Linked DNA regions of Homo sapiens: regions 1, 3 and 4 are each linked to region 2. The links come from fine-mapping of genetic effects on gene expression. A gene starts in region 2. Each other region holds a variant in brackets. All regions are shown on one strand. Distances are from middle to middle.

Region 1 (8,000 bases), 45 kb after region 2:
ATTATCTCACATAAAATGAAGTCTTACAAATGGACCTACTGGGTTTTGTACAGCAGCCAAGTGATATCTCTTCCCTTCTGCTGTCTTCCCTTCTGCCATCCTTCACATGGTGGCATTGTATCCTTAGACTTGCCACCCATGCCCTCAGGTTGGCCGTTGCACACTGTCTTACATAAAGCAGGAAGGAAAGGAAAGGCTGCTACGAGAGAGTGTACCTTGTGCATCTCTTTTTTAATCAGGAAGCAAACATCTTTCTAGAAGCTTCCCTAGCAAAATTCCCCTTACATCTCATTGGCCAAGACTGTTACATGTTACATGGTTACTGTTATTACTTGCTCATTGCAAGGAAGACTGGGAACTCAAATGCCTGGAAAAAGGAACAGGATAATCGTGATTGGCTCAAGCCTTAGGGTGGGCATGGCTCCCTGACAAGGGAGAGAGGAAAAAGCTGTTGAGTGAAGAAGACTGCTTCAGTTTCCCCATCTGTATAATGGGAGGAGTAAGGGCTGTCGTAAAAACTCAATGAAAGAAGATTCTTCAACGTGGTAGGTGCAGTGGCAGCTGGCAGTACCCTGACCCTGCCACCGCACAGCCCTCTCAGCATTGCTCATCCTGCACTGTGGATATCAGTTGAGCCACGTGTCTCCTGCCCTGGGCTGTGAGCTCCATAGGCAGGGTCTCCATGGCTGTATCTCCAGAACCCAGCACAGAACCAGGTGCTTGGGAAAGTTTTGAATTGATTCTCATCTGCCATTGGCATGGGGAAGGGAACTAGCTTGTATGAAACAGATAACAATGTATGGGACCCTCATTCATTATTTCAGCAAATATTTGCTGAGTTCCTCCTACATGGCTAGCCCTGTGCTAGACACTGGGGAATCGGCGATGAACAAAGCAGATAGAAATCCCCACTCTTGTGGAGCTGACATTCTGGAGGGAGAGACAAAAAGCAAACATATAAAGAAAGAAAGAAATCACATGGATCTGGATGACAGTGAGTGCTGGGAAGAAAATAAAAGCAGAGGAAGGGGATGGAGCGATGGGCAGGGGGCAACGGTAGGGAGGGTGTCGGGGAAAACTTTTTGGAGAATGTGACGATGAAAGTGAACAAGGAGAAGTCAACCGTGTTGAGATGATGGCAGCTAATGATGTGGACAGGCCACTCTGTTCTGAGTGCATTATCTATTGATTCATCATGTCATCCTCGCAACAGCCCTGCACGATCAATTCTGTCATTAACCCCATAGTACAGATGAGGATGCGGAGGCACAGAGAAGATAAGGGACTTGTCCTGTGTCACACAGCAAGGAGCCATCCGGCTCCTAAGTTGGTGCATTTGACTTCTGTGCTTCCGGAAAGAAAGAGCAGCAAGTTTAAGATCTGGAGGTGGCACTGAGCTTTGGAGGAGCAGGGGGCAATGAGGTGGCCGGTGTGACGAGGACTCAATGTGCAAGAGGGAGAGTGGTGGGGAGATGAGGTGGAGGGGTGGTCGGCGGTCAGATCGTGGAGGGTCTCGGACGAGGGTCCTGACCCTGGGTCTCCAGTCCTGGGAAGTGGAGCCCAGGCTGTACCATGGCTGACCTCAGCTCATGGCTTCCCCTCCCACTTCCAGCCTACAGGGAGCCCTTCGAGCAGCACCTCCTGCTGGGCGTCAGCGTTTCCTGCATTGTCATCCTGGCCGTCTGCCTGTTGTGCTATGTCAGCATCACCAAGTGAGTCCTGGGCCCAGTGCTGCCGAGCAGTCCCTCTGGAGTGCAGGGTGGCAGGGACTTGCCCCTCTAGTCTGCCCCTTTGCAGTCCTCTCAGTCAATAATACGCATTTACTGAGCAGCTACTACACACCTTGAGAGTAGAGCTGAGAACATATCGACAAGGACCCCACTTTTTTCTTTTTTTTTTTTTTTTTTTTTTTTTGAGACGGAGTCTCACTCTGTCACCCAGGCTGGAGTATAGTGGCACAATCTTGCCTAACAGTAACCTCCGCCTCCCGGGTTCAAGCAATTCTTCTGCCTCAGCCTCCAGAGTAGCTGGGATTACAGGCGCATGCCACTATGCCCGGCTAATTTTTTGTATTTTTGGTAGAGATGGGGTTTCACCATGTTGGTCAGGCTGGTCTCGAACTCCTGACCTCATGATCTGCCTGCCTCAGCCTCCCAAAGTGCTGGGATTACAGGTGTGAGCCACTGCACCCAACCAGGACTCCACATTTCTAAAACCGGCATCCTACTGGGGAGACTGAAAATACATATCAATCACAAACAGGTGGTTTTCCATAGTGACCCACTCTCTGAATGCACTAGACCAGGGTGCAGGCCAGAGATCTTCTGGGGTGCTTTTTGCAAGGGGGACCAGGATAAGGCTCTCCAAGGAGGGAAAATTTGAGGGGGGCCCTGACTGGGGAGAATGAGCTGGCCAGGGATAAGCAAGATGGAGTCATCCCACATCCCCTTACAACGCTGGGTGCCTGGGCAACTGGGGGCATCTGGGGGCATGTGGTAGGAGCCAGAGGAATTTGCGACGATTGCCCTGATGGAGTCAGGAGACCTGGGTTTGAATCCTGGCCTTGGAGCTTGGTAGCTGGCGGCCGACAAGTTGCTGAAACCCCTGAGCCTGGGGTTCCTGCTTTGCAGAGTGACAGTGATGGTGAGAACATATTTCATCAGCCAGAAGAGGCCAAATCACAGTAAAGGCTGAGGGAGGAGATGAGTGGCGAGTGGCTGGGAGGTGGTGGAAGGAGCCTCGTTTCCAGAGAGCTCTTGCCAGCCCTTGGAATCATGGTGTCTCAGAGCCTCAGTCCTCCCATCTCTGAAATGGGACTAGCAAGCTCAACCTCACTAAGTCAGGATTAGAGGTGGCTAAGGATTATTAACATGATTGATGAAAGTGCCCACTCTTGGCCCAGCACACACTAGGTAGGCAGGGAATGCAAATTCCCCTCCATATCTTGTCACTGATGCCTCCGAGCAACCTTGGACTGATCGCCTTGCTCTGAGCCTCAGTTTCCCCATCACCTGTACCTCTTCCCACTCCCCATCACTATATCCCAGCATGCCAGCCTCTTTGCTGTTCTTTGTCTTTGGTTTCTTGTTTTGTTCTGTTTTTTAGACAGGGTCTCACTCTGTTAGCCAGGCTGAAGTGCAGTGGCGCGGTTACGGCTCACTGCAGCCTCCAATTCCTGGGCTAAAGAGATCCTCCCATTTCAACTTCCAGAGCAGCTGGGACAACAGGCGCTTGCCACCACACCTGGCTAATTTTCTTATTTTAATTTAATTTAATTTTATTTTTTGGGACAGAGTGGAGTCTCAAAAACCAAGCTGGAGTGCAGTGGTGCGATCTCGACTCACTGCAATCTCTGCCTCCCGGGTTCAAGCGATTCTCCTGCCTTAGCCTCCCGACTAGCTGGGATTACAGGCGTGTGCCACGACACCCAGCTAATTTTTGTATTTTTAGTAGAGATGGGGTTTCACCATGTTGGCCAGGATGGTCTTGAACTCCTGACCTCAAGTGATCCACCCACCTCGTTCTCCCAAGGTGCTGGGTACAGGCATGAGCCACTGTGCCTGGCCAATTTTCTTACATTTTGTAGAGACTGGCTGTCACTTATGTAGCCCAGGCTGATCTTGAACTTCTACCCCTTTATCTTTATTCATGGCACTTATTACCATGAATGAATGACCTCATATAAGCATTTCTTTCGTTTTTTTTTTTTTTTCTTTGAGATGGAGTCTCATGTTGTCCCCCAGGCTGGAGTGCAGTGGCGCGATCTCAGCTCACTGCAACCTCCGCCTTCCGGGTTCAAGCGATTCTCCTGCCTCAGCCTCCTGAGTAGCTGGGATTGCAGGCGCCTGCCACCATGCCTGGCTAAGTTTTGCATTTTTAGTAGAGACGGTGTTTCACCATATTGGCCAGGCTGGTCTCGAACTTCTGACCTCAGGTGATACACCTGCCTTGGCCTCCCAAAGTGCTGGGATTACAGGCGTGAGCCACCATGCCTGGCCTCATATAAGCATTTCTGTCTCCATTTATCATCCATCTTTCCCTCTTGAAGGTCAGTTTCACCAAGGCAGGCATCTTTGTCTCGTTCACTGTTGTGGCCTCAGGGCCAGGCACAGTGAGTCAAACATAGAAGGTGCTCAATAAATATGTGTTTATTTATTGAAACCATGGGCAGAGGCTAATTCAGAAGCGGTCTGAGGACCTTACCTCCCAGTGATGATGCACCATGGCCCCAGGCAGGCCAGGAAGAGAGAAGGGTTGTGTTTCTCCGTAGGTCCCCCAGCTTCCCAGGCCATCCCAGGCCATTCCCTGGTCATTTGCCCTCAGCTGCTCTGAAAAAGGGATTGTTGAGGGGAACCTAGAATCCTCTCTCTGCAGTTTGAGTCTTTCCTAATCCCCTGGGGTCTCATTCCCACTGAGGACATAGGTGGCCTCCTCAGGAACTCTGTGCTGGGTAACAGAATGCGGGAGTGTGAACCTGGCTCTGCCACCTACCAGCTGTCACTCCACCTCCTTGGGCCTCACTCTCCTCATCTGTAGAATAGGGTTAGCAATAGAATCCATGTCACCAGGTTAGAATGATGAGTCAGTGGTTTGACCTCCAGAAACTAATCAGCCTGATCTCTGATGCCAAATAAGTATTGGTGATAACGACCACTTTTATGGGAGGAGCGTTCACCTGTCAATAATTCAGAGATCAACACCTTTTCCTTTTGTTTTTCAGGATTAAGAAAGAATGGTGGGATCAGATTCCCAACCCAGCCCGCAGCCGCCTCGTGGCTATAATAATCCAGGATGCTCAGGTAGGAGTAGGCGTGGATGAGGACATGTGGGACTGTGTACATGAAGAAGTGTGGTTCAGAACACCTGGGCTGTTAAGGACCTTCACTGGCTTCTGGAATGGCAAATAGACAGTCAGGAGGGTTGCAGGGGAGACAGAG[A/G]CAGAAGCCGAATGAGGTCATTAGCAGACCAGAGGCTTTCCCGCCCTTCCCCTTGGCAATCCCAGCCTGGGGTGGGCTTCTCTGGGGTTGGTTTCCTGTTTTTTTCCCTCCCCTTGGGAGAATGACCCTTGGGTCATCATCACTGTGTCATTCCCTGGGGAGGTGCCAGTACCAGGGCTAGAGGCCAGAAGGAGTGGAGGAAGGAGAGGGTGACAGGCTTTCTGTGTCTTCTTCTTAAGCATAGGAAACTGCCCCCGAAGCACTAGCAAATCCCTTCCGGGTTCTCATTGGCCTGAAATGTATCCCACCCCTAAGCCAGGGGTGGAGTCAGCTTCCCCAAGGCGATGGTCCTGTGGGTGAGTGGGTGGGGTTTGCCTGAGCAAGATGAGAGTTCTCTAGGTAGGAGAAAGGGGGATTATAGGTCCTGTCTAGAAGAGAAGGTCTGAGGGTCCTTGCTTTTCCAGGGACTCTGGAATCTAGTGGTGTTGGCTTTGAATCCTGACTCTGCCACTCACTGGCAGTGTGGACTTGAGCAAGTTGCTTAATTCTCTGAGCCTCAGTTTCCTCTTGTGGGTTATAACAGTGTTTACCTGGTAGGACAGATATTGGAATTTATTGAGACAATACATATAAAGTGCATATTCCAGCCTCTTGCAAATACCAAGTGCCATTTATGTATCAGTTAGTGTTTGCTGTGTAACAAACGACCCCGAAATGTAGAGGGTTACAACAACTTTATTTAGCTTATGCTTCTGCAGGCTGGCATTTGGGGCTGGGCTCAGCAGTGAGGGTGGCGGGGGAGGCTGGGCTGGGCTGGGCTGGGCAGATCTGAATTGAGCTGACCCGTCCCCGTAGCCTCCCTCCGTGTCTGACAGTTGGCTTTTTTTTTTTTTTTCTTTTTCTGAGACGGAGTTTTGCTCTTATTGCCCAGGAGTGCAATGGCGTGATCTTGGCTCACTGCAACCTCTGCTTCCTGGGTTCAAGCAATTTTCTTGCCTCAGCCTCCCAAGTAGCTGGGATTACAGGCATGTGCCACCACGCCAGGCTAATTTTGTATTTTTAATAGAGATGGGGTTTCTTCATGTCGGTCAGGCTGGTCTGGAACTCCTAATATCAGGTGATCCACCCACTTCAGCCTCCCAAAGTGCTGGGATTACAGGCGTGAGCCACTGCACCCAGCCTAGTTGGCTGACTTTTACCTGGGACAGTGCAGGTGCCTGAGCCATGTGCCTCTCACTCTCCAGCAGGCCGGCCCAGGCTTGTTTACAGAGTGGCTCAGTTTTCAAGGGTGGGAAGTCCCAAGGCTTCTTGAGGCCTAGGCGCAGCACTGGCATGATATCACTTCCATCACATTCTATGGGCCCAAGCAAGTCCCAGGGCCAGTGTAGATTCAAGGGATGGGAGGAGATTCAGAGCACTCCTCTGTGGCCACTTTTGCCATCGACCACAGTCCCTGTAAATATTAGGACAATGTAATTAATTCCCAGGAATCTGAAGCTCAGAAAGCGTAAGTGACCTGTTGGACTTCTGATCTGTGTGATGTCGAGGCTTGTACCCCTTCCTGAGCATTGCCGTACTCCAGGCCGGGCTGCAAGGCCACTCTGCTCTTTCATTGGCTGTCTCTGTATTTTAGGGGTCACAGTGGGAGAAGCGGTCCCGAGGCCAGGAACCAGCCAAGTGCCCGTATGTATCTGAACTTAGGTCACAGCCTGCATGCATTGGGAAGGTGATAGAATTGGAGAGGCAAGCCCCTAGCTCCATGTCTGCCTTCTCTTCCCTGCATTCGGTAATTGCCCTGTGACATTAGCCTTCAAGGGACGGCAGGAGGAGGGGTGTTCTGGAAACGTGGACTGCTGGCCAAGCCCCCTGAGTTTCACTGGTGTGTCAGGTACATGGTGATACCCCTTGGGAGTGCTGTTATAGTTAACAACCAGAGCAGCCGTGCCTGTTGTTAAAATCTTGACCTAATTGTATACTTGTCGGCAAATAGCCACTATCCTGAACACTCCCCTCCTTTTTTTTAATATACAGGATCTCACTCTGTGGCCCAGGCTGGTGTGCAGTGGTGCGATCATAGCTCACTGCACCTTCAAACTCCTGAGCTCAAGTGATCCTCCCATCTTAGCCTCCCGAGTAGCTGATACTACAGATGTGCATTACCACGCCTGGCTATTTTAAAAGGTTTTTGCCTGTAATTCCAGCTACTCAGGAGGCTGAGGCATGAGAATCACTTGAACCCGGGAGGCAGAGGTTGCAGTGAGCGCAGATTGTGCCACTGCACTCCAGCCTGGGCGACAGAGTGAGACTCTTGTCTCAAAAAAAATAATACCAAAAAAAGTTTTTGTAAAGACAAGCTCTCGCTGTGTTGCCCCGCCACTGTGGCCTCCTTAGCTTCTTCCCTGGGGCCTGCTGGACCTTTCCATACTCCAGAAACTAAAGGGGGTCCAGGACCCTGCTTCAACCCTAGGATCCCGCATCTTTTTTTTTTTTTTTTTTTTTTGGACGCAGGGTCTTGCTGTGTCCCTCAGGCTGGAGTGCAGTGATTCACTGCAGCCTCAAACTCGTGGGCTCAAGTGATTCTCTAGCCTCAGCCTTCTAAGTAGCTGGGACTACAGTCATACACCAACATGCCCAGCTAATTTTCCTTTTTTTTAATTCTTGTAGAGATGTTTGAGACGGCTTGGGCTCTGTTGCCCAGGCTGTTCTCAAACTCCTGAGCTCAAGCGATCCTCCCTCCTCAGCCTCCTAAAGTGCTGGGATTACAGGCGTGAGCCACCGCACCCGGCTTCCATATCCTTTCTAATTGGTCATGGCTTGGGATAATGGTGTTGCTTTTAATTATCATCATCCATAAAGACTTTTTCTTACTCAACAGATCTGAGCTTGTATTTGGTGCCCAGGACATGTGCTGGGTTCCCGAAATCCCAAAGACACAGACCCTACCCTCAGGGATTTCTCATTCTAGCAACATAGACTGATCAATTACTGATTATAACGTTAGAAGGCATGTCTGAAGTAGACAGCCATCAGGACATGGTGATTTCAGGCTGGGCTTTGAAGAAT
Region 2 (8,209 bases):
AACATTGACATATGCATCTTAAGTCACTAGGAAATTGCAAACAATGATGAGATACCACTATACACTTACTAGAGTGGCTAAAATCCTCAAACTGACAATATCAAAAGCTGACAAGAATACAGAGCAATGGAAACTCTCACTTGTTGATAGAAAGGCAAAATGTTACAGCTAGCTTCGAAGACACTGGCAGTTTATTGCCAAACTTTCTTACTTTTACCATATGATCCAGCAATTGTGCTCCTTGGTATTTACTCAATTGTGTTGCAAGCTTATGTCCACCCAAAAACTTGCACATGAGTGTTGATAGCAGCTTTATTCATAATTGCCAAAAATTGGAAGCAACAAAGATGTCTTTCAATAGGTAGAATGGATAAACTGTGGTACATCCATACAATAGGGCACTATTCAGCCACAAAAGAAATGAGGTGTGAAGCCTGGAAAAGACATTGAGGAACCTGAAAAGCATATTGCTAAGTAAAAGAAGTCAGTATTAAGAGACTACATACTTTCTGATTTCAATTACGTGACATTCTGAAAAAGGCAAAACTATGGAGACAGTAAAAAAATCAGTGGTTTCCAGAATCCAGGAAGAATAGGTAGAGAATTGGGGATTTTTAGGGAAGTAAAACTATTCTTTATTTTTTTCTTTTTTTTTTTAGAGACAGGGTCTCATTCTGTTGCCCAGGCTGGAGTGCAGTGGCATGATCATAGTTCACTGCAGCCTCGAACTCCTGGGCTCAAGGGATCCTCCTGCCTCAGCCTCTGAGTAGCTGGGACTACAGTGCACCACCATGCCTGGCCTGTTTTTTGTTGTTGTTGTTTGTTTGTGTTTTTTGGTAGAGACCGGGTCTTGCTATGTTGCCCAGGCTGGGAAACTATTCTTTTTGTTGCTACATGTGTGGATCCATGGCATTATACATTGTTAAGACCCAGAACTTGGCTGGGTGCATTGGCTCATGCCTGTAATCCCAACACTTTGGGAGGCCGAGGCTGGTGGATCACTTGAGGTCAGGAGTTCAAAACCAGCTTGGCCAGTATGGGGAAACTCCGTCTCTACTAAAAATACAAAAATTAGCCAGGCGTGCACCTGTAGTCCCAGCTACTTGGAAGGCTGAGGAGTGAGAATCGCTTGAACCTGGGAGGCACAGGTTGCAGTGAGTTGAGATCACGCCACTGTACCCCAGCCTGGGTGACAGAACAAGACTCTGTCTCAAAGAAAAAAAAAAGACTCAGAACTGTGCTGCAGAGGTTAGGCACAGTGGCTCATGCTTGTAATCCCAGCACTTTAGGAGGCTGAGATGGAAGGATAACTTCAGCTTAGGAGTCTGAGACCAGCTTGGGCAATGTAGCAAGACTGTCTCTAAAAGTATAAAAAAAAAAAAGCCTAGTGTGGTGGCATGTTCTTGTAGCCCAAGCTACTCAGAAGGCAGAAGCAGGAGGATCCCCTGAGTCCAGGAGTTCCAGGCTGCTCCAGCCTGGGCAACAGAGTGAGACCTTGTTTCCAAACAAGCAAACAAACACAAAACAAAACAAAACAAAACAAAACCCCGAGAAACAGTGAAACAATGTATGCTATGGACTTTAGTTTATAATAATGTATCAGCATTATAAGGAAGGCACTACACACTAATGCAAGATGTTGATAAAAGAGGAAATTTTGCATGGGGGAGAGGGATGTATGGGAACTCTCAGTACTATCGGCTCAATTTTTCCATAATCTACAATGGTTCTAAAAAATAAACTCTATTAGTTTTAAAGACCGAAAGGCTTGGAAACAAGTAAGCGTGTTAGGATATAATGAGGATTGAGCTTATACTGAGGCAAGACTTGGGAACCCCTAGATGGGGGAACAGAGGTTTTACTATCTTGGTGCCTTTGGACCTGCTCCCAGGACTGACGGAGCAGTCACAGATAAAGTCTGGGCATCTTGGGCAGGAACTTGAACAGTGGGACTGTATGCAAGAAGACATTTATTATCTCTCTTGCACCCGAGAACAATGCCCTGTTTTCTTTAACTTTGTAATTTGACATAATTTCAGACTGGCGGGAAAGTTGGGAGAAGAGTACAAAGAATTCCCGAAGTCTCTTCCCCCAGATTTCCTGAATGTCTTAGCCTCTGACCACAGCTGTGCTTTCTTTGCCTGTCTTCTCAATGCCACGTTCATCTCCATTTCACAACCAAGCAACAGACCAAGGCAACAGGCTTCGACTTTGCTTCTTTCTCATTTTCATCCTGATAAGAACAGCAATTGACATTTTGAATGCCTAATCCACGCCAGGCACTATTCTAGGCACTGCGATACGTACCTTGCCATTTCACCATTTCATAGCCCTATGAGGTGGGTCTATTATTATCCCCATTTTACAGATGGGGAAACTGAAGCACAGGGAGGATGATCTACTTTGCCCAAAGTCACATAGTCAATACGTAGCAGAGTTGGTATGCCAATGCCGGCAGTCTAGAGGCAAGCGAGGAAACCGACGAAGGATGACTTGACTGGGAAAACAGGATGGGAGCCCAGTTTGGGAGTCCAGGAGGGGATATAGCCCAAGCCATACATTCCCAAAGGACTTCAAAGGTAGACTTTTGCTGTCGTCTCCCGATGACATGGGGCACAAACTCAGAAACACAGACAGGACAAAGGCAGCTTGCAGGGCTGAACTGCCTGGGATGAAGCATCAACCGTGTGGGTGTGCGGATGTGTGAGTAATGAGTGTGAGGGAGTATGAGTGTGGACGGGAGTGGAAGTCACACCTAATCCAGAGGATTCCTATTCCTCCTGAAACCCAAGCTTCCAGGAAAGCCCTTCCTGTGGCCTTCTCTCCCTAGTCCTCTTAGCGTCTGCCTGGGCTGCCCCCAGTACGGGGTTTATTACACTCAATTGCTTACATCTGTTCACTTCAATTGCTTACGTCTGCTCACTTGTCAGTGCCCCAACCAGGTCCTCAGGGCTAGGAAGCAGGGGCTGGATCTATTTCTTGCTCTCCCTAGCCCCCAGCTCACGACTTGGCATATGGAGGCATCCACAAACAGATGCCGAAGGATGGGAGTTTTTCCACACTCCCACGCCACCTCCAGGTATTTGCTCATGCTGTCCCTTCCACCTGCATGTTTTTCTGCATTGATTCAGGCACTGGTCAGAGGTCACCTCCTCCAGGAAGCCATCCCTGACCCCAGGGAACTGACTTATCTTTACTGTCACTTCCGGGGGTGGGTTGGTGGCTGTCTTGCTCACTTGGTTGTAAGGTCTCAGAGGGCAGGGATTGTGTCTGTTTCATGTCTTCAGGTCTGCGTCATCAGCGCTTGTCACAAGGTTAGACACACAGTAGGACCAAGACAGACCAAGTACATGAAAGAATGATTGACATATGGGCCAGGCGTGGTGGCTCACACCTGTAATCCCAGCACTTCGGGAGGCAGAGGCAGGCAGATCACCTGAGGTCAGGAGTTTGATACCAGCCTGGCCAACATAGTGAAACCTCATGTCTACTAAAAATACAAAAATGAGCCGGACGTGGTGGTGCACGCTTGTAATTCCAGCTACTCAGGAGGCTGAGGCAGGAGAATTGCTTGAACTCAGGAAGTGGAGGTTGCAGTGAGCTGAGATCACCCACTGCACTCCAGCCTAGGCAATGGAATGAGACCCCATCTTCAAAAAAAAAAAAAGAATGATTGACGTGCAGTGGCCCCTGCCCTGGGAAGCCAACCCTCACCCTCCACCACAGCACTTGATCCCATTGGGCAGTCCTTGGCTTCCACCCTCAAACTGAGAGCTCCTTGAGGGCAGCAGGGGGTCAAATTACTCTCTGGGTTCTCAGCACTGCCCAGTGTGAGTCCAAATATCTCCCACCTCCCCTGTCTCCGCTCTTTCCTCACTCAGGGCTCCACAGCCATGCCGGCCTTCAGCAATTCCTCCTGCAGGCTGAGCTGGTTCCCACAGGGCCTTTGCACTAGCTCTTCCCTCTCCCTACACAAGTCTTCCCCCATAGGCTCTTCAGAGTCTCAGCTCAAATGGCCTCTACTCAAAAAGCCTCTTCCAGACCACCTGCCCCACTGGTCTAAGAGGTCCCTACTTTCTTCTTGGGCCCTCCTGACCTGAAATACTTTGTTGAGTGTTTTCCCCCCAGTCATCTGGCTGCATCCGGGTTCTTATGGTGTCCAGACGTTAATGGTCTATGGGGCCTGTGTTCGAATCCCAGCTCCACCCCTGCTCCTGCTTACCTGCAGAGTGATTCTGAGTTTCTTTCTTTTCTTTTTTAAAATTTTATAAATGTCAATTTTTGTAGATAGGGGTCTCGCTAACAGGGTTGCCCAGGCTGGTCTCGAACTATGGGGTTCAAGTGATCCTCCCGCCTCAGCTTCCCAAAGTGCTGGGATTACAGGCATGAGCCACTTTGCCCAACCCATTTTGAATTTCTTAAGGACTCTGTGCCTCAGTTTCCTGATTTGTAAAACCGGTGATAGTATCACTCCCTTATAGGGTAGTTGCCAGGATTGAACGAGTTAACATTTGCAGTGCCCGACAGATTGTACTAGTTACTGATTGAAGGGCTGTTTTACTATCCAAATGTGGCTGGAGTAGGAGTTGGGTAAACATTTATTGAAGAATGTGCAACCACTCTCACTTGGAAGCCGGGCTGTTAGGAAGGGGAGGAGGATTCCAGTCGCCCAGCCCTCCCCCACCAAACGCAACTGCCCCGGCGCAAAAGAGGCCGCGGAGGCCAGGCAGGAGCAGGTCCTGGAGGCCTGGTCGGCGTGGGCGTTTTATTCCGAGACCAAGGGGATCCACTGCAGAGTTCTCCGCTGGGCGTGACCTCGGGCTACGGCGTGGGAGGAAGCGCGCGGCAAGACACCCAGCGAGGTGCTGGGGTCGCCCCCAGGAGAGGACGGCGGCTCGGACTGTCCGGCGGCGGCGGCGGGGACAGCGACAGGGGCGCGAGGTGGCCGGGACCCGGGCCGGGCGCGCCGGGCGGGGCGGCGCATGCAAATCTGCCGGGCGCCGGGGCGGGGAGCAGGAAGCCGGGGCGGGCTGGGTCTCCGCGCCCAGGAAAGCCCCGCGCGGCGCGGGCCAGGGAAGGGCCACCCAGGGGTCCCCCACTTCCCGCTTGGGCGCCCGGACGGCGAATGGAGCAGGGGCGCGCAGGTAGGATCCGGGGCCCGCGCGCGGATCGGGTTGCGAAGGTATCGCCCGGGCACGCCGGCTGAGGGCGTTCGGGAAGGGCTCGGCCGCCGGCGGGGACCACGGGGACCACCCCGACTCCGAGCGGGGCCCGAGCCCGCGACTCTCGGTGCGCGCGGAGCAGCGCCCGGTTCCGTCCTTGCCGCCGAACGGCAGCGGAGGCGCGAGGCCCGGGGTACGTGGACACCCAGCGCTCCCCAAAGCCGGTGCTGGCAGTGAGACCTCCGCCGGGACGGCCTGCGGGGGTGGGGGGCTTGGGGTTAGGCTGTCGGAGGCCACGCAGCCCCTCTTCTCCGGGCAGTGGCGCCCAGCCCTGCGCTCAGGAAGTCAGTGAGGACTTCGGAGAGAGAAAGGGTGGGGAAAGTTCTGAGAACTGTAAATTTGAGTAGTAGGTCAGTGAATCGGGGCGGTCTCCGCCTCCGAATATCAGATGGACCCAATAATCGCGATCATTGACTGGGACTTGTTTTACTGAAAGGATGCCAAGTGAAACCTCCCACTAACTTCTCTGTGGCCGGTGCTGTGCGTCATGGACATTGTACAGATGAGGTCACCAAGACCCCAGCCGCTTTAGTAACTTGCCCTAAGGTGCCGCCCACTTGGGAGTCCGTGGGGCAGCAGGACTAGAGCCCAGGCAATCCCACGCCAGAGCCAGCTGCTCTCCATCTCTCAATCACGTTTGAGGAGCCCCCACAATAACCAGAATCTCCGGGAGATTTGCTTAAAATGCAGATTCCCAGGTCCTTGCCCTGAGATTCAGATTCAGTAAACCCAGGAATCTGATCTTTATTTTATTTTTAAAAATTTATTTTATAAAGATGGTGTCTCACTATGTTGTCCAGGCTGGCCTCAAGTGATCCTCCCACCTCGGCCTCCCAAAATGCTGGGATGACAGGTGTGAGCCACTGAGCCCTGATTTTTTTTTTAAACAAAATCTGGATTTCTTAGACTTAAGCAAGATAGGGGACCACTAGTTTGTCTGCTTCTGGGGTTCAAGGAATGCCCCCAGGCCAGCGCTAACCCTGCTCCAGTTCTAGTCTCTCCCCTTCCCCAGCCCTCTGGGAGGCATGACCCACTGCACTTCCCTGCCCCCAGTAGCCTATGAGGAGCCCAAGGCATTTGCTGGGACCTCAGTGCCTTTATCAAAATCCCAAAGTCCAATGGGGAAACAGGCTCAGGTGTAGGTTTGGCCAGGGTGTCCTGCACATTAGGGCATTCCAGGGTCCTGCAGGGGTTTCTTAGAACTCGGCTAGCCCAGCCCATGAATGGGAGGTGACCTGCTAAGCCACTCATTCACTCACTAGCACTCATTCAGCTCCTGCGAGGCCCTGGGTGGTGTTCTGGGCACTGGTGCTTGCCTCAAGGAGCACCCCCTCTGCAGGAAGACAGACGTGAGGGCTGGGAGGGTGCGGATGCACCAGCGGCTGCAGGACCACAAGCCAGAGGGGATCAGCTCTTCAAAGGTCACTGGGCCAGGCTTCCCAGCACCCAGGGACCCTGAGCTAGCCTTGTGAGTAGAGCAGGGGAGTCTGGCAGGTAGAGGATGGGAGGTAAAGGGAGGCACAGAGTGGGCGGAGGCTGGGAAGTGTGAAAGGGCACTGTGTACAGAACCTAGGGAGTAAGCAGAAGCCAGAGATGGATGGAAAGTTGGGCTGGGCTGCATTGTGGAAAGCCTTGAATGCCATGCCAAGGAACTTGGGCCAGTGTATTCACCTTGGCTTGAGTTGTAAAAGCAACAATGCAGATTCCTGGGCCCCACCCTGGGCCTCTGGATCTGAATCTGGAGGGAGACGCTGGGGAGGCAGCAGGGAGGAAAACCTGCAGTCACTCACCCCATTTACAACACATGCAGTTACCGGCAGGTCCGAGATAACCTAAGGGTTTCCAAATGCTAGGAAGTGACTCAATGACTGATATGTTTAATACAATACAATCCCGGTTGCAAAATGCCCAGGGCAAGGGTGGGGGTGTTCAGTTTTCTAATGCTCCCAGTTCAAAAAGGAGCTGAAATGAATTGTCAAAGAAGTGACAAGCTGGGCGCAGTGACTCACACCTGTAATCCCAGCACTTTGGGAGGCTGAGAGAGGATCGCTTGAACCCAGGAGTTTGAGACCAGCCTGGGCAACATAGTGAGATCCTGTTCCTACAAAAAAAATTTAAAAACTTAGCCAGGCGTGGTAGCAGGTGCCTCTAGCCCCAGCTATTTGGGAGGCTGAGGTGGGAGGATGGCTTGAGCCCAGGTGGTCAAGGCTGCAGTGAACTATGATTGTGCCACTGCACTGTAGCCTGGGTGACAGAGCGAGACTCTGTCTCAAAATAAACAAATACATAAATACATGAGAAGAGAGAACCTTTTCTACCTCCCCCATCTCCCTGCCCTCTTCCACCCACCCCATCTGGGACGATGGAGGAGAGCGTTTGGGATTAGATGCCCCACCTCTCGACTGCCCTCACTGGTACCTGGGAGTGAGGCCAGGACAGAAGCCGCCTAAGTACTGTTCTTCCTCACATTTGTAAAAGTGAACTTTCTTGAGGGTTGATGACATGTTTTATAAGCTACTTCACACAATGTCCAACACCCAGTGGGTCCACAATCAATGTATATGTCTGTTGTTACCTGTCAAAACGTATAGCTGGGGAGTGACAGTATGGACTTGAGCCAGATCACCCAGTGCAAATGCTGGCTTTGCTGCTTACTGTGTAACTGACTTCCCAGAGCCTCAGTTTCTGCATTTATGAGATTATAGTGACTATGCCATTGTAGTGATGACTAAATGAGTTAATATATGTCAAGCATACAAAACAGTACCTGGTATGTAGTACAAACTATGTATTTGTTAAATGAATACCTTTTTTTTTTTTTTAGAGCCATGGTCTCTCTCTATTTCCCAGGCTGGAGCACAGTGGCACAATCATAGCTCACTGTAGCATCCAATACCTGGGTTCAAGTAATCCTTCCACCTCAGCCTCCTGAGTAGCTGGGACTACAGGTGTGTGCCACCACGGCTGGCTAATTGTTTTTATATTTT
Region 3 (8,209 bases), 24 kb before region 2:
CCTGAAAGTGACATGTGTCCTTTCTACTCTAGGATCTCTGGTGAGAACTAGTCACAAGATCTTCCCTAAATGCCAGAACACTGGGAAATGAAAGGGAACAATGGAATCATTGGCGAGCATTACTGTCTCTGCTCCAGGGTGGCTCGTAGACTCAAATGAAAATGCTGGAGCCTCAGATTTGGGACTGAATGTGGACCAGAGAACTTGGCAGACCTTGCCAGCAGCAGCTTATGGAGGTCTGGTCAGGCTGTCATCCATTTTCAGCTATCTGTCACCCTCTCAGGATTTGCACTGGAGAAAGAGTAAGAGCAGAGAGAGAGAGAGAGAGACAGAGAGAGAGAGAGAGAGAGAGAGAAACAACTGATTGGCCCAGGCGGGTTCTACGTCCCACTTGAAACACAAGTTAATGGACAACTTGATTGACAGAGTTGCACTAAAAGGTGGTGGGGGGAGTTCATCCAAACAAAACTGGGGTGCTGTTACAACAAGAGAGGGAGGGTAGGTGCATAGTGAGCAAAAGTACACACTTGCTGCAGAGCTGGTCCAAATACCCACTCTTCAGAGTTGACATCATCTGGAAGGTTTATAGAAGTGGGGGCTTTCCAGATTAGCTTTAGAGGATGGGATAACTGATGCAGAGGAAAGGTAATGCAGGCTGAGAGGCCCGTGTAAGCAAAGTGAAGCTGCAGAAGAGTGCAATCATTTGCAAGAAAGAGAAGGCTGGCTGGGTGCAGCGGCTCACACCTGTAGTCCCAGCACTGTGGAAGGCCAAGGCGGGAGGATCCCTTGAGCCCAGGAGTTTGAGACCAGCCTGTGCAACACAGGGAGATCCTGTATCTACAAAAAATTTAAAAATTAGCCAGGCATGGTGGTGCATGCCTATAGTCCTAGCTACTCAGGAGGCTGACGTGGGAGGATTACCTGAGCCTTGGGAGGCTGTGGCTGCAGTGTGTCATGATTTTGCCACCACACTCCAGCCTGGGCAACAGAGTGAAACCCTGTCTCAAAAAAAAAAAAAAAAATGAGAAGGCTATTGAGATTGAACAGAGGATATGATTTGCAGTTACATTTTCACCCCAACTTACCCAGCTTATCTTTCCTTCCCGTGGTGTCAACTCAGGGGACGCAAATGGGTGGAGGCTGGTTGGAATGGCTCATACTACATCATGAGATTGGAGCCTGGTCCTCCATGTTGGCTGAGAGTCTCAGTTCTCCTCCACGTGGCCTCTCCTTGTGGTCAGCTTACATTTCCTCAAAACGTGGCAGTCTCAGGGCAGTTGGGTTTCTTGTGTGCTGGCTCAGGGCTCCGGAGAGGATAACATCAGAATATCTTGTTCTTCCTCAGGCTTGGGCCCAGACTAGCACAGCATCATTATCTTTTTATTCTGTGAGTTAACATATTTCAGAGGACCAGTGCAGATTCAGAGTGGAGAGGGCTGCATAAGAACACGAACACTGGGAGGTGGCTTCATTTGGGGCCATCTTTGGAGACCAACTATGATGCATGATGTAACTGACCTGAATTCCCAAGCCCCTACCCCCAGCTCCAGCATAAGGTAGGTAAGAAGTGACTGGCAACATAAGTGGGTCATGTTGGAGGAAAGGTAAGTCTGGAGCTAGGCCTTACAGGTGTTCAGTGCCACAGATGAAAATGATGGTGCCAGGAAAGAGGTAGGGCAGGAGGTCTTTCTCTTCATGGGCCTCTTCCCAGATTTCCCCTGTGGATCTTGTTGGCAAAAACTGAATCACATCAGCACCTCTTACTGCAAGGAAGCCTGGGCAAGTCAGAATCCGTGAAAGGGAAGTGGGATTGTTATTTCTGGCCTAAGTCAACCCTGATTCATTCTCCAGGCATGTGTGGGCCATTGCAGCCTGAATTAATCAGGAGGGAAGAAGAAGTGCGACGATAACTGGCCAGTGATACACAGTGGGAGGTCAGTACAAACCTACCCCAAAGGCCGAGGAAGCTGAGAGGTTGAAGAAAGAGGCTGACAAACCCAGTTTTTCAGAGACAAATTTTTGTTGTTGTTGTCATTGTTGTTTTTAGAGACAGGGGCTTACTCTGTCACCCAGGCTAGAGTGAAGTGATGTGATCAGAACTCACTACAGTTTTAACCTCCTGGGCTCAAGCAGTCCTCCCACTTCAGCCTCCCGAGTAGCTGGGACTACAAGTCACACACCACACCTGGCTAATTTTTTTTTAATGTTTTGTAGAAACGGCCTCACTATGTTGTCCATGTTGGCCTCAAAGCCCTGGGTTCAAGTGATCCTCCAACCATAGTCCCCCAAAGTGTTGGGATTATAGGCTGGAGCCGTGGCTTCCTAGAAAGAAGCATTTAACTGGGACTTGTGAAGAGAAGCCACGTATCCAATGGTTGAGAAATAGTAGTCCCCTGTGCTGCTACCTCCCAGCCCCAAGACCAGGGCTTATATACCATAGGGAAATTGCCTAAGGGCAGGATTTATGATTAGCATGTGTTTACAATAACATCAAGGTTGTTTTGACCTAAGGGCAGGCTTTGCAGTAAGTAGAAATCTTAGAGGCATTCCTGCAACTGTGGTGAATCTTAAGTCAACATGGTGGATCTGCATCCAAAATGGAGTTGCTTTCGCCTCACAGTAGGCGACATACAGAGGATGTCACAAGCAACAAAAAACAGGGAAAGCAGCTTGGAGGATATAGCTTTACTTCAGGTGAGAGGAGGGTGGGGCTGGACCAGGGCAGAAGCAGCAAGGAGTGGGAAATAAGCCAGATGTGAAAATGAACACAGAAGTGGAGGGTACTGCGTGGAATACTATGCAGCCATAAAAAAGAATGAGATCATGTCCTTTGAAGCAACATGGTTGCAGCTGGAGACTGTTATCCTCAGTGAATTAACACAGGGACAGAAAACCAAATACTGCATGTTCTCGCTTATAAGTGGGAGCTAAACATTGAACATGCATGGTCATTAACATGGGAACGATAGACACGAGGGACTTCTAGAGGGAGGATGGTAGGAGGGGGCAAGAGTTGATACGCTTCCTATTGGGTACTATGCTCAGTACCTGGGTGATGGGGTCATTTGTACCCCAAACCTCAGCGACGCACCATTTACCCATGTGACAAGCCTGAACAGGTACCCCCAAAACCTAAAAGCTGGGAAATAAAAAAAGAAGCAGAGTGCACAGCCCATGGCTGCTGTGACTGTCTTTCACAA[G/A]CGAGAATGGGAAAGAGAGACAGAGAGGGAAGTCAACAATGACAACATCATTTCCAGCTTGCTTAATTGGATGGTGACACCGTCCAAGCACAGAAGTTAGCTCGCGAGAGACAATGACTTTGCCCTAGGCATTCTGAGGGCAAGAGGTGTGAGAGAACATGCTCAAGGTGTGGATCATGAAACACGAGGGCATGGGCCAGGTCGGGGGGCTCACGCCTGGAATCCCAGCACTTTGGGAGGCCGAAGCAGATGGATCACATGAGGTCAGGAGTTCGAGACTAGCCTGGCCAACATGGCAAAACCCCATCTCTACTAAAAATACAAAAATTAGCTGGGCGTTGTGGCAGGTGCCTGTAATCCCAGCTACTTGGGAGGCTGAGGCAGAAGAATCGCTTGAAACCTGGAGGTGGAGGTTTCAGTGATCCGAGGTCGCACAACTGCACTCCAGCCTAGGTGACAGAGTGAGACCACCCTGTCTCATAGATAAATAAATAAATAAATAAATAAATAAATAAATAAATAAAATACTAGGGCATGGGAGAAAGGACAGGGCTAAATGTGGAGACTTTAAATGACCAACGCAGAACTGTAGTCAATGCCATGCTATGGGCTGGGTGCAGTGGCTCATGGCTGTAATCCCAGCACATTGGGAGGCCAAGGCGGGAGGATTGCTTGAGCCCAGGAGGTCAAGAATAACCTGGGCAACATAGGGAGACCACGTCTCTACAAAACAAAATAAAACCAAAACAAAATCATCACACTATGGAATGATGTGTCTGCTTGTACCAGGTCTGGAAGAATGCACACCCAATGCTCACAGAGGTTCCATCTGGGAAATCGGATTGGACAGGGCCAGAATAGATCCGGGGAAACATTCACTGAATATATATACTTATGTATTGTGGAAGCTTTGATGGTGGTCATGTACCCAAGAAGGGAAAAAGTAAGTTTATAAATGAGCAGAACCAGAAGAATGCTAGAGGAAAAAGGAGAGGATGTGAATGATTACATTTAGAAGGCAGGATGAGAAGTGAGAGGAGGTGATTAGAGAGGTCAGGAGAAACCAGGAGGGTAGGTATGGAATCTTGGAAATTAACAGAAGAGAGCATTTCATGAAGAATGAACAGCTGCAGAGAGAAAAAGATTGCATGAGAACTGGGAAAAGAAAGGCTTTGTGTTTGGTGACACTGTCATAGCTGACCCCAGAAAGCATGGTTTGAGTAGAGTGGCCCAAAAGAGAAGGATACTGGAAGGGGAGGATCAGTACCAGAGATGAACTACAGTCGTATATAAAGAAATGTGATGACATGAGGAAAGAGAGCACTCATTGGGGTCGAGAAATGATACTTCTTGCCTCTGGGAGAGTGATCATATCCTTAAAATTTTTTTTTTTTTTTTTTTTTTTTTTTGAGATGGGGTCTCACTCTGGCACCCAGGCAGGAGTGCAATGGTGCCATCTCAGCTCACTACAACATCCGCCTCCTGGGTTCAAGTGATTTTCATGCCTCAGCCTCCTGAGTAGTTGGGACTAGGCACCCGCCACCAATGCCTGGATAATTTTTGTACTTTTAGTAGAGACGGGGTTTCACCATGTTGGCCAGGCTAGTCTCGAACTCCTGACCTCAAATAATCTGCCTGCCTCAGCCTCCCAAAGTGTTGAGATTACAGGCGTGAGTCATTGCACTCGGCCTTAAAATGTATATTGATACCACTCCTCACTTCTAGCTTGTTTTTGACCTGCAAACCAAGAAGTAAGCATTACATCAACCTGTACAAGGTGCACATCAGTGATTCCTGCAACATCCTGCATCATGATGGGACCGGTAGTTGATGTGGTAAAAATATGTTGTGCATTAGTCTTTCCCACGAAATTTTTTCTAGCCACAAAATTAACCAGAAATAAGAGAAGCATAGCCCCATCCCCCCTTTTCTCAGCAACACAGAAAGGCAGTGTCTCCAACACAAGAGAATGAATAACCTGCCAAAAACTAAGTTAGAAATACTGATGAAACCAGGTTAGATGATACGCCGTAGTTTCTCTGCCATCCCACAGTGGATTGAAACCATGTTACAATTTGATGATGGGATGTCCCAGAGCAAATGAACAAGGTTGTGCCAGCAGAAATGAAGCCTGAGGATTTGGGGTCATTCACTTGTGAATGATTCCTCTCTCCCTGTCTTCTTTCTCTTCCTTTTTGCTGTATTTTTTTTCATGTACTCACTCTCTTCCACAGACAGACTGCGGAACTGCCCATGAGGCCAAGCACCTATTAGTAGACCAAGAAGCATCACCCATCCATGGCCTAAGTCGGCAGCCAGCTATTGTTCTCATCTGAGTCTGGGAGTTCAGGATTTCCATCCTGACCCGGCTACTTTCTTTCAACAGTTACCCACTGTAAATTTCCGAATACTTTCAGCTACTAATCCCAGTGTACCCAATTAAAAATGGCTTTCCTAATAAAGGCATTTCAGATCGAATTTAGCAAAGTGTTCCAAGGTAGGAGTTTCCAGGGCTGGGGCAGAAACTCAATGATCTTATAAAGGCCCCTGCTCTGACATCTTCAGCATGTTGGCTTTTATCCTTGGCTCTGTCCTCATGGTTGCAAGATGGCTGTCACAGCTCCAAGTATCTCCTGCCTCCAAGACAATGTCCAAAAATCTCTTTCTCTCTCTCTCTTTTTATCAGAGAGGAAAATCTTTCCCAGAAGCCTCCTTGCACACCTTCATTCAAGCTCCATTGCCCAAGATTAGGTCATCCACCCCCCCTAGCTGTAAGGAGCCTGGGGAGGTGAGTACCTTGCATTTTCAGTCTCTATAGTGGAAAAAAGGAGTTGGAATGACTACTTGGTAGGCAACCAAACATCCACTACAAGTAACAGTGATGGAAATAAAAAGTAATAATGACAGCTAACATGAATTATGCTATTAATACATGTTAGACATTGTTCTAAAGGGTTAACATGCATTGGCTTAGTTCATCCCAAAAATACTAACGAGATCCGTATTATTGTAGTCCTCATTTTATAGGCAAGAAAATGGGCTCAGAGAGACTTTAAAAATTTGCCTCCACCCCTGCCCCTCCCAGCAAAAAAGAAAAAACTTGCCCCCAGCCCGCAGAGCCCCAGTTAGAAAGCCCACACTTGGCCTTTTGGAGACCAAGGTCGGTGAGACATTCCTTGGCATCAAAAGATTCACAGTTCAGAGGAAGGCCCAGGCCAGAAAATAAATGACTGAAATATCACGAGTGAGGTAAGTGCTGATCTAGGAGAAATAGGGTGTTAGCAAGAAAGTGTCTGGCCGCAGCATCCCTTGGCCCCTCTCCTAGGACTGCCAGGCCAATCTTGTGTTTCCAGTGAAACCTCCCAGGGAGGAAGCGAACAGAAGAAGTTGCCTGAGGTGCATGAGCCAAAGCTGGGGCCTCAGTTGTGGAAGCATCTCCCAAACTGGGATGATGGGGGTGGGGGCATTTTGGAGGGTGTGACAATGCTGTGTTGCCTCAAAGTGCCCAGAGAGGCACCAGGACCCTAGCAGGAGTAACTGCATGACGCTATAAGGGAGGTTGCACCCCCCCAGCCACTGCCAGGTGCCTGTGCCCAACCTGGGAAGGAGTAGCGAGGACACCCACCTTCCAGGACCAGATGGAATTGGAAAATACTGCACTGTGTTGCCTGCTGCAGATAGGAGACAGAGGGCCCTCTCTAAGTGTCTGTGCTGTGTAGGACACCCCATCCCCTATCCTCTGTTTCCCCCTTTGGTTCTCTGTAGGCACAGAGAGAATCCAGACAACCACTGAGAGCAATTTATTGTACTCTGGGGCTTGAGGCCTTGGCACCAGACTTAATTGTATTTGAAACAACAAATTCCTATGGCGTGTCGTACATCCAGAGAGAAAGCCAGTCTGAGCTTGGGGCTGCATGTGCAGATCAGTGGGAATGCAGAAAGAGATAACACTGTGTCTATCATAGGAGAAGGAATCCAAGAAGGCTCCTGTACACTTTCATGCCCAGATGAGGGGCAGTGTCAGCAGGGTACTGAAGGATAAATAGGAGTTCGCCAGGTGGACAAAAAAGGAAAAAGTTCTACACAAGGCAAAGAAGTATGAAAGACATTCTGGAGCTGTGAGCGTTCTGATATTGAGCACACAGGCCCATAGATAAGGCAGGTAGAGAAGACCCAGAGGCTTTCTCTTGTGCTCCAACACTTTGGGTAGGGAAGACTAGCTCTTAAAAAGACTGAAATGGGTCTGAATGAGAGTTGTCCAAACTCGCACTTTTATTTTATTTATTTATTTTTTAGATGGAGTCTCTTTCTGTCACCCAAGTTGGAATGCAGTGGCATGATCTCGGCTCACTGCAACCTCTGCCTTCCGGGCTCAAGTGATTCTCCTGCCTCAGCCTCCTGAGTAGCTGGGACTACAGGCGCACATCACCACGCCTGGCTAATTTTGTATTTTTAGTAGAATCAGGGTTTTACCATGTTGGCCAGGCTGGTCTCGAATTCCTGACCTCAAGTGATCCTCCTGCCCTGGCCTCCCAAAGTGCTGGGATTACGGTCGTGAGCCACCGTGCAGGGCCAAACTTGCACTTTTAAGTACCAGGACATTTTCCTATTCATGAACCCCTTTATAAGTTGAAATTACCTGTAACTCCAATACGTAAATCGGATGTAATAGGGATACCTTTTTCCCTGACAACAATTGTCTTGGATGCAGGAAACGCCTCCCGATTTTACTAATACATGAAGTTAAGCCCAGCGCTGTGTTTCCAGAGACAAGGCTGGTGAGAAAGTTAATCTCTGTCATTATGGGGAACCCTCCCTACCAGAGAGCTGAGTGGAAATCCAGGGTCTGGTCTAATCCTAACTGTTGAGGGGGTCCCTGAGACTTTCATCCGTACTGGTGACTTCCAGAAGGTTGACTGTCCTCTGCTGTCTCCCCAAGCTGACTTCTTGTTGCAGAACTTGGGATTCTTGTGTGTGTGTGTGTATGTGTGTGTGACGGAATCTTGCTC
Region 4 (8,000 bases), 28 kb after region 2:
GCCTGGGAGCTGCTTTTTTGAATAAGATCCCAGGAGAGAGACCCAAGCGGGAAGTGAAGGATGGGCACTTGAAATGTTGCAGGGAATATAACCCAGCGCGTGCTGTTTTCTTTTTTTCTTTTTCTTTTTTTTTTTTTTCTCTTTTTGCAACAGGGTCTCACTGTGTCGCCCAGCCTAGAGTGCAGTGGTGCCATCTCGGCTCACCACAACCTCCACCTCCTAGGCTCAAGCGATTTTCCTGCCTCAGCCTCCTGAGTAGCTGGGACTACAGGCACGCGCCACTACCGCCCGGCTAATTTTTTTTTGTATTTTTGGTAGAGACAGGTTTCACCATGTTGGCCAGGCTGGTTGTGAACTCCTAAAGTGCTGGGATTACAGATGTGAGCCACCACGCCCGGCCCCAGTACACACTTTTTGGAGGGTATTTGACGTTATGTACCAGGAGTGCTGGGGAAAAGTACACACTTGACTCCGTGAGATTCTGCTTCTTAGCATTTTTTTCTTTTCCTTTTTTTTTTTTTTTGAGACAGAGTCTCACTCTGTCACCCAGGCTGGAGTGCAATGGCATGGTCTCGGCTCGCTGCAACCTCCGCCTCCTGGGTTCAAGCAATTCTCCCACCTCGGCCTCCCGTGTAGCTGGGACTACAGGTGTGCGCCACCACACTTGGCTAATTTTTGTATTTTTAGTAGAGACAGGGTTTCACTATGTTGGCCAGGCTGGTCTCAAACTCCTGACCTCGTGATCCGCCCACCTCAGCCTCCCAAACTTTCTGTTTTCTTTTCTTTTCTTTTTTTTTTATGACAGGGTCTTGCTGGAGTGCAGTGGTACGGTCTTGGCTTACTGCAGCCTTGACATCCCAGGCTCAAACGATCTTCCCACCTCAACCTCCCAAGTAGCTAGGATTACAGGCATGCACCACCGTGCCTGGCTGATTTTGTTTAATTTTTGTAGAGATAAGGTCTCACTCTGTTGCCCAGGCTGGTCTTGAACTCCTGGGCTCAAGCCATCCTCCCTCCTTAGCCTCCCAAAGTGCTGGGATTACAGGTGTGAGCCACCACACCTGGCTTCTGAACATTTTTTTCTTAATGATAATAGCTGGTGCTATGGGCTGAATGTGTTCCCCCAAATTCATATGTTGAAACTTCATCCCATTGTAGTCATATTAAGAGATGGGGCCTTTGGAGAAGTGATTAAGTCATGAGGGCTCTGTGGTTGGTCATGAATGGGGTTAGTGCCCTCATGAACGGGCTGAAGGAAGTGTGTTTGCCCCTTCTGTCATATGAAGACACAGCAGCATGGCATCGTCCGTGAGGAATGGGCTCTCACCAGATCTGGATCTCCTAGTGTCGTGATCTTGGACTTCCCAGTCTCCAGAACTATGCATTAGAAAATTTATTTATTTATTATTTATTTATTTTGAGATGGAGTCTTGCTCTTGTCGCCCAGGCTGGAGTACAATGACGCGATCTCGACTCACTGCAACCTCTGCCTACCCCAGTTCAAGCGATTCTCCTGCCTCAGCCTCCAGAGTAGCTGGAATTACAGGTGCCCGCCACCACACTCGGCTAGTTTTTGTATTTTTAGTACAGACGGGGTTTCTCCATGTTGGCCAGGCTGATCTCGAACTCCTGACCTCAGGTGATCCACCCACCTTGGCTCCCCAAAGTGCTGGAAATACAGGTGTGAGCTACTGTGTCTGGCCTGAATAATAAAATTTAAAACAATTTTTCAAAAATTCACCATGAGGTCTCACTATATTCCCTAGGCTGGTCTCAAACCCCTGGACTCCAAGTGATCCACCCCACCTTCCCGAGTAGCTGGGACTAGAGATGCACACCATTGCACCCAATAGAGCAATACGTTTCTGTTCTTTGTAAATTACCTGCTCTAAGGTATTTTTGTTATAGCAGCCTATATGGACTAAGCTGACTTGTAACGTTACTTGAGACTTTAAAGTGTTCCGGTCACTGTTGGAGGGCTCTGTCTGTGTTAGCTCATTTAATCCCCACAACACCTCAATCAGATGGGGCTATTCTTAGTCCCACTTTATAGATAAGGAAACTGAGGCATGGAAGCACAGCTTGCTCAAGGTTCACATCTAGTCAGTGACAGAGCAGGTATTTAAACCTCAGGAAATAATCAGAGAAACATGTGTAGAGGGTTGTCCAAGGAAGGCCACATCCAGAAGCATCTCCCAGGACAGTTGTTGTGTAGCTCACCCTCTGGACTTTGTGGGTCTGGGTGTTGTTTCATGATTATAGAGAGAGCTCTGTGAACGTGGAGGACCTGTTGTCGGCAGAGACACAAATGGCCAGGGCATGGCTGGGCAGCCGCAGTGGCTCAGGCCTGTAATCCCAGCACTTCGAGAAGACCAGAGGGGCAGATCATGAGGTCAGAAGTTCAAGACCAGCCTGGCCAACATGGTGAAACCCCGTCTCTACTAAAAATACAAAAATTAGCCAGGTGTGGTGGTGGGCACCTGTAATCCCAGCTACTCGGGAGGCTGAGGCAGAAGAATCGCTTGAACCCGGGAGGTGGAGGTTGCAGTGAGCTGAGATTGCACCACTGCACTCCAGCCTTGGAGACAGAGCGAGACTCTGTCTCGGAAAAACAAACAAACAAGCAAACAAACAAACAAATAAATGGCCAGGGCAGGGGAGGGTTGCATATTGAATAAGATGAGCTCTGCTGGAAGCACAGGTCAGCACTAACCTGCTTCCTCTCTCTCTGCAGGTGCCTTGGCATCTCCCAATGGGGTGGCTTTGCTCTGGGCTCCTGTTCCCTGTGAGCTGCCTGGTCCTGCTGCAGGTGGCAAGCTCTGGTAAGTCACCACTTCTCAATCATTCATTTGTTGGCTATTAATGGCGTGCCAGGGTCCTGCAGTATGTCACCTGGCCTTATGGAGATTACACTGCAGTGGGAGGGGACAGCCAATGACAAGTGGCCCTGATTATCAGTAAATTCTAAAGATTGTTAGAAAGTGATGGGAGCCGGGTGCAGTGGCTCACACCTGTAATCCCAGCACTTCAGGAGGCCGAGGCAGGAGGATCGCTTGAGCCCAGGAGTTCGAGGTCAGCTTGGGCAACATAGGGAGACCTTGTCTCTACAAATAATAAAATATTAGCCAGGTGTGGCAGTGCACGCCTGTAGCCCCAGCTACTCAGGAGGCCGAGGTGGGAGGATCCCTTGAACTCAGGAGGTCAAGGCTGCAGTGAACTGTGATCGCGCCACTCCACTCCAGCCTGCGTGAGAAAGTGAGACCCTGTCAAAAAAAAAGAGAAGGTGATGGGGAAAGAACACAGAACAGCATAAGAGGGGGTTGGGGAAGCTGGGTGGAGTGGGGGGGATTGCAGTTGAAAGTAGGGAAGTCAGGGAAGGCCTCATTGAGCTGACTTGGAGGAAGCGGGAACCGTGCAGATGTCTGGGGAAGGCTCATTCTTGGCAGAGAGGCCCTGCACTGAGCCTGGCGGGAGGGTTGAGCACAGGAGGGAATGTGGTGGAGGAGAGTGAGCAGCAGGAGGGAGCAGTGAAGGTCAGCAAGGTGACAGAGTGGCTGAATCAAAAAAGACCTTGCAGTGTTTGAGCAGAGGATCCATATCATCCATTATGTTCCAAAGGACTCTTCAGGATGCCGTGTGGAGAAAGGAAGAGGGTGGAAGCCAGGAGGTCTGGAGGGAGGTCTGGAGTGGAGGAGATGAGAGGCTCCGGATCCCTCTGGGAGGTAGATTTGAGGACAGATTGGAATTGAGGTGAAAGACAGAGAAAGAGAAGTGGCCAGGATGACTCCAAGATTTCTGACCTAAACTACTGGGAAGGACGCGGTTGTCATTTCTGAAATGCAGAAGGATGCCAGAAGAGAAGGTACTTTGGGGAGGGGCGGGAATCAGGAGTTAGTTTTGGACATGAGATAAGCTTGGAATATTTATTTGCTATCTAAGACAGCTCCTTAACATGGTAAGCCCTTATGCAAGTTGTTGTCAGCTGAGATGGGCGTGGCACTGAGCATGGGAGCATGGAGGCGCCTGAGTGGTCTCATGCTCAGGTGGTTTAGCAAACTCAGTGTACATCCTGCCAATTCCAGTCCTGCCATGGCCACTGACAAGCTAGGAGGGCGCTGAAAGGAGAAGGACCCCGATGTCTCCTCCAGCCCATCCATCTCCTCTCTCCCATTGGCCAAACCCAACCGGAAACTAAAGGCCAAGGGTACCCGGTGATGAAGACTGTGGTATCAGCCTCCTGAGCACAGAGAGGGCAGAAAGGGGTGGAGACAAAGAGGGGCGCAGATAGTGGGCAAATGGGGAAGTGGCACTTCCCCTAGCTCGAGGGCAGAGGCTTGGTGTGATGGAATGGCACTCCTTAAACTGCTACATATTTTCCCTTTAATTTGGCCAAGAACAAGTTGTCAAGTTTGTGTGAGATAAAGGTGCACTTGGTTCGTTCTTGTCTAATGGCCCCC[G/A]CACCCATGGGTATTTCTTCAGCTTCCACAGTCATCCCGACACTAGCTGGGAAGCTCCAGCAGCCCTGGTCCTGGCCCCAGCTCTGTGGGCGCTGGCCCTCAACTTTGCCTGCACTGTGCTTTTGTGCTATTCCCCTTGGTCCTGTTTGGGTGCAAGTCCCCCTCACGCATTGAGTTCCTGGGCCGCTCAGGCTGCTCCTGTGTCTCCCCAGGGAACATGAAGGTCTTGCAGGAGCCCACCTGCGTCTCCGACTACATGAGCATCTCTACTTGCGAGTGGAAGATGAATGGTCCCACCAATTGCAGCACCGAGCTCCGCCTGTTGTACCAGCTGGTTTTTCTGCTCTCCGAGTAAGCCTGCGCTGGAGCTGGAGGTTTGGGGAGGTTGTGCCCAAAGGGTTTGCCCCAAGAGTGAGCTGGGTCCAGGTGGTGCGCTGGAGTGCAGGATGCTGAGTATGGTTTGCTGCTGTTTATATGGTGTTAGAGGGGAGGTCCCATCTCCAGGGACATGTTATGTAAGATACAGTGGAGCGCATGGTGGGAGTGTTGGTCCACGTGGCACATGGATACGGCTGGAATACTGGACTAGACCAGCAGTTCTCACACTTTTTGGTCTCAGGACCCTTTTTCACACTTAAAAATGAGTGAGGACCCAAAGGGCTTTGGTGTAGGTAACACATCATTCTATGTTTACCTAATTAGAACTTGCAATGAAGAAATGGTGTAATTTTTAAAAAATTAAAACAATTAAAAATTTTTTTTCTTACTGAAATGGAGGTCTCACTGTGTTGCCCAGGCTGCTCTCAAACTCCTGGGCTCCAGTGATCCTCCTGCCTCCGCCTCCCAAAGTGCTGGGATTACAAGCGTGAGCCGCTGTATCCGGCCCAAAATGGAGAAATTTTAAGTCCCAACAACATGCAAGCCCGCATTCAACAAATCTTCAGATCAATTACATGATCACAGGTCATGTAGCCTCTAGAAAATTCCACTGTACGCCAGTGAGAGAGAGTGAAAAGGCAAATAACGTCCCTGTATTATGATGAAAAGAGTTTTACCTGGTGGGCCCAGACCACACTTTGAGAACCACTGGACTAGACCCTTGATTGAGGAGTACGGTGTTGAGAGTGGAGTCCTCTGTGATGGTGGATGGACCAGGACACATGGCATAGGAGTCAGGTGGTTCCCTGGGCTACTCCATGGTGCACAGGATGCTTCGTTACACTGGTGCCCAGGACATAATCACGTACACAAGACACACAGTTACGGGGCAGACTGGGGATATACGGCACACCAGCATGCAGCGTTCACCAGTAAAGGTGGTATTCCATGATTATTCTAAGGTAGATGGGCTGTGCTTTGTTTCCATTGGCTTAGTCCAGGGATTGGCAAACTATGGCCCGTGAGCCAAATCCGGCCCACTGCTTGTTTTTGTAAATAAAGTTTTATTGGAACACACTGGCTGCTGTAGTTGTAACAGAAACTGCATGGCCCTCCTTTATGTTTTTTGTTTGTTTGTTTGTTTGTTTGTTTTCTTTGAGACAGAGTTTCGCTCTTGTTGCCCAGGCTGGAGTGCAGTGGCACAATCTCGGCTCACTGCAACCTCTGCCTCCCGGGTTCAAGCGATTCTCCTGTCTCAGCCTCCCGAGTAGTTGGGATTAATGGTGCCTGCCACCACACCCGGCTAATTTTTCGTATTTTTAGTAGAGACCGGTTTTCATCATGTTGGCCAAGCTGGTCTCGAACTCCTGAACTCAGGTGATCCACCCGCCTCAGCGTCCCAAAGTGCTGGGATTACAGGCATGAGCCACTGAGCCCGGCCTCCTCCTTTATCTTAATTGAAATAATTCAGAAATGGAAAGTCAAATACTGCATGTTCTCACTTATAAGTAAGAGTTAAATAATGTGTACACATGGGCATTATTCCATGTACCATGGAATAACAGACATTGAAGACTTGGGAGGGTGGGAGAGGGGTGAAGGAAGAGAAGTTACTTAATGGGCATAGTGTACACCATTTGGGTGACGGACCCACCAGAACCCCAGACTTCACCACTAGGCAGCATATCCAGTGAGAACAGATCTGAGGCTTGCCATCAAAATTGCACTTGTAAGGCCGGGCACTGTGGTGGCTCGCGGCTGTAATCCCAGCCCTTTGGGAGGCCGAGGTGGGCAGATCACTTGAGGTCAGGAGTTCGAGACCGGCCTGGCCAACATGGTGAAGCTCCATCTCTACTAAAAATACAACAATTAACTGGGTGTAGTGGCGCACACCTGTAATCCCAGCTACTAGGGAGGCTGAGGCGGGAGAATTGCTTGAGCCCAGGAGGTGGAGGTTGCAGTGAGCCGAGATCACATCACTGTACTCTAGCCTGGGTGACAGTGAGACTTTGTCTCAGGAAAAAAAAACAAAAACAAAAAACAAAAAACTCGTACCCCCTAAATTTATACAAATAACCAAAAAAAAAAAAAAAAAAGGAAATTGTGTGGCCTTTGAAGTCCAAAATATTAACTATCTGGCCTGTTACAGAAAAAGTTTGCAGACCCCTGGCCTAGCCCGTGAGATGTGGGTTGGCTGTTAAGGTGGAACATTGGAATTATCTTACGATGGCCAAACTGTGCGATGCAGAGCTTATGTTGTTCTAAATTAATTAGTGCCACCGGTTCTTCCCTTTCATGGGCTTTCAGGAACAAGCTAAGTCCCAGGACCAGGGCCGGCAGCTAGGCAGGTGTGAGGAGCATCCTTGGTGCATGTGGTAAGAGGCTGTGGCCAGCAAGAGAGGCAACCCTAGTCGGCTGCCCCAGCACACCCTGGCCGCTCCCAAGCCCCCAGATCTGTCCTCACATCCGTGATCGGGAAGCTGGAAGAGTCTGATGCGGTTCCTGGAGGCATGTCCCGGACACAGCTGTGGGGCCCAGCCAGCCTACAGGTGACCAGCCTAACCCAGCCCCTGTGTCTGCAGAGCCCACACGTGTATCCCTGAGAACAACGGAGGCGCGGGGTGCGTGTGCCACCTGCTCATGGATGACGTGGTCAGTGCGGATAACTATACACTGGACCTGTGGGCTGGGCAGCAGCTGCTGTGGAAGGGCTCCTTCAAGCCCAGCGAGCATGGTGAGCAGGGCGGAGTGCGGCAGGGGTGGCTGGGTGTGTTCCCACAGCTGCCTGGGCTGAGGGTGGGGTGGGCAGGGGAGGAGGTGGGGTCATAGCAACAGCAGGAGGAAGCCGCCTGTATTTTCCCAAATCTGATGGGATTCCTGCCCCTGCCTGGGCCTCAGTCCTCCCACCTTTGAAACGGAGCTGGTCGCAGTAGACCACCAAGCCCCCTTCAGCCCAGCTGTTTCCACCCCTGAACTTAAGTGCCCAGGAAGGCGTATTGAGATGAGGTGTGCTTGCTGGAAGGCATGCCTGCTGCTGATTGAAAACCGAACTGGGAACATTCCTTCCATTCTGTGTCCACTGGTCAGCTGCTGCGGCTTTGGATGGTCTTGACCGTGGAAGGCTGACCTTCTTCTGGTACCCGGAGTCCCTGCAGGAATCCCCCT

The links. PIP is the estimated chance that this variant, and not a neighbour inherited with it, causes the effect.
Region 1: its variant is fine-mapped to the expression of IL4R in whole blood (TOPMed, PIP above 0.99).
Region 3: its variant is fine-mapped to the expression of IL4R in whole blood (TOPMed, PIP above 0.99).
Region 4: its variant is fine-mapped to the expression of IL4R in whole blood (TOPMed, PIP above 0.99).

The regions. Positions count from the first base shown.
Region 1 is chr16:27,354,196-27,362,195 of GRCh38, forward strand. IL4R (interleukin 4 receptor) reads left to right here. Exons shown (of 11, transcript NM_000418.4): 8 at 1,613-1,712; 9 at 4,721-4,799; 10 at 6,571-6,620. Among named protein-coding and RNA genes, the nearest start is that of IL21R, 44 kb to the right of the region's middle. The variant A/G (reference allele first, on the strand shown) is at 4,938.
Region 2 is chr16:27,308,877-27,317,085 of GRCh38, forward strand. IL4R (interleukin 4 receptor) reads left to right here and starts at 5,098. Exons shown (of 11, transcript NM_000418.4): 1 at 5,098-5,144. RefSeq lists enhancers at 2,289-3,488, 4,311-5,041 and silencers at 4,819-5,118, 5,139-5,348, 5,789-5,838.
Region 3 is chr16:27,284,811-27,293,019 of GRCh38, forward strand. It overlaps NSMCE1-DT (NSMCE1 divergent transcript), which reads left to right. Exons shown (of 5, transcript NR_037184.1): 3 at 1,852-1,934; 4 at 3,990-4,143; 5 at 5,435-5,658. Among named protein-coding and RNA genes, the nearest start is that of NSMCE1, 20 kb to the left of the region's middle. The variant G/A (reference allele first, on the strand shown) is at 3,201.
Region 4 is chr16:27,337,452-27,345,451 of GRCh38, forward strand. It overlaps IL4R (interleukin 4 receptor), which reads left to right. Exons shown (of 11, transcript NM_000418.4): 3 at 2,735-2,822; 4 at 4,670-4,808; 5 at 7,418-7,569. The coding sequence starts at 2,753. Among named protein-coding and RNA genes, the nearest start is that of IL4R, 27 kb to the left of the region's middle. The variant G/A (reference allele first, on the strand shown) is at 4,458.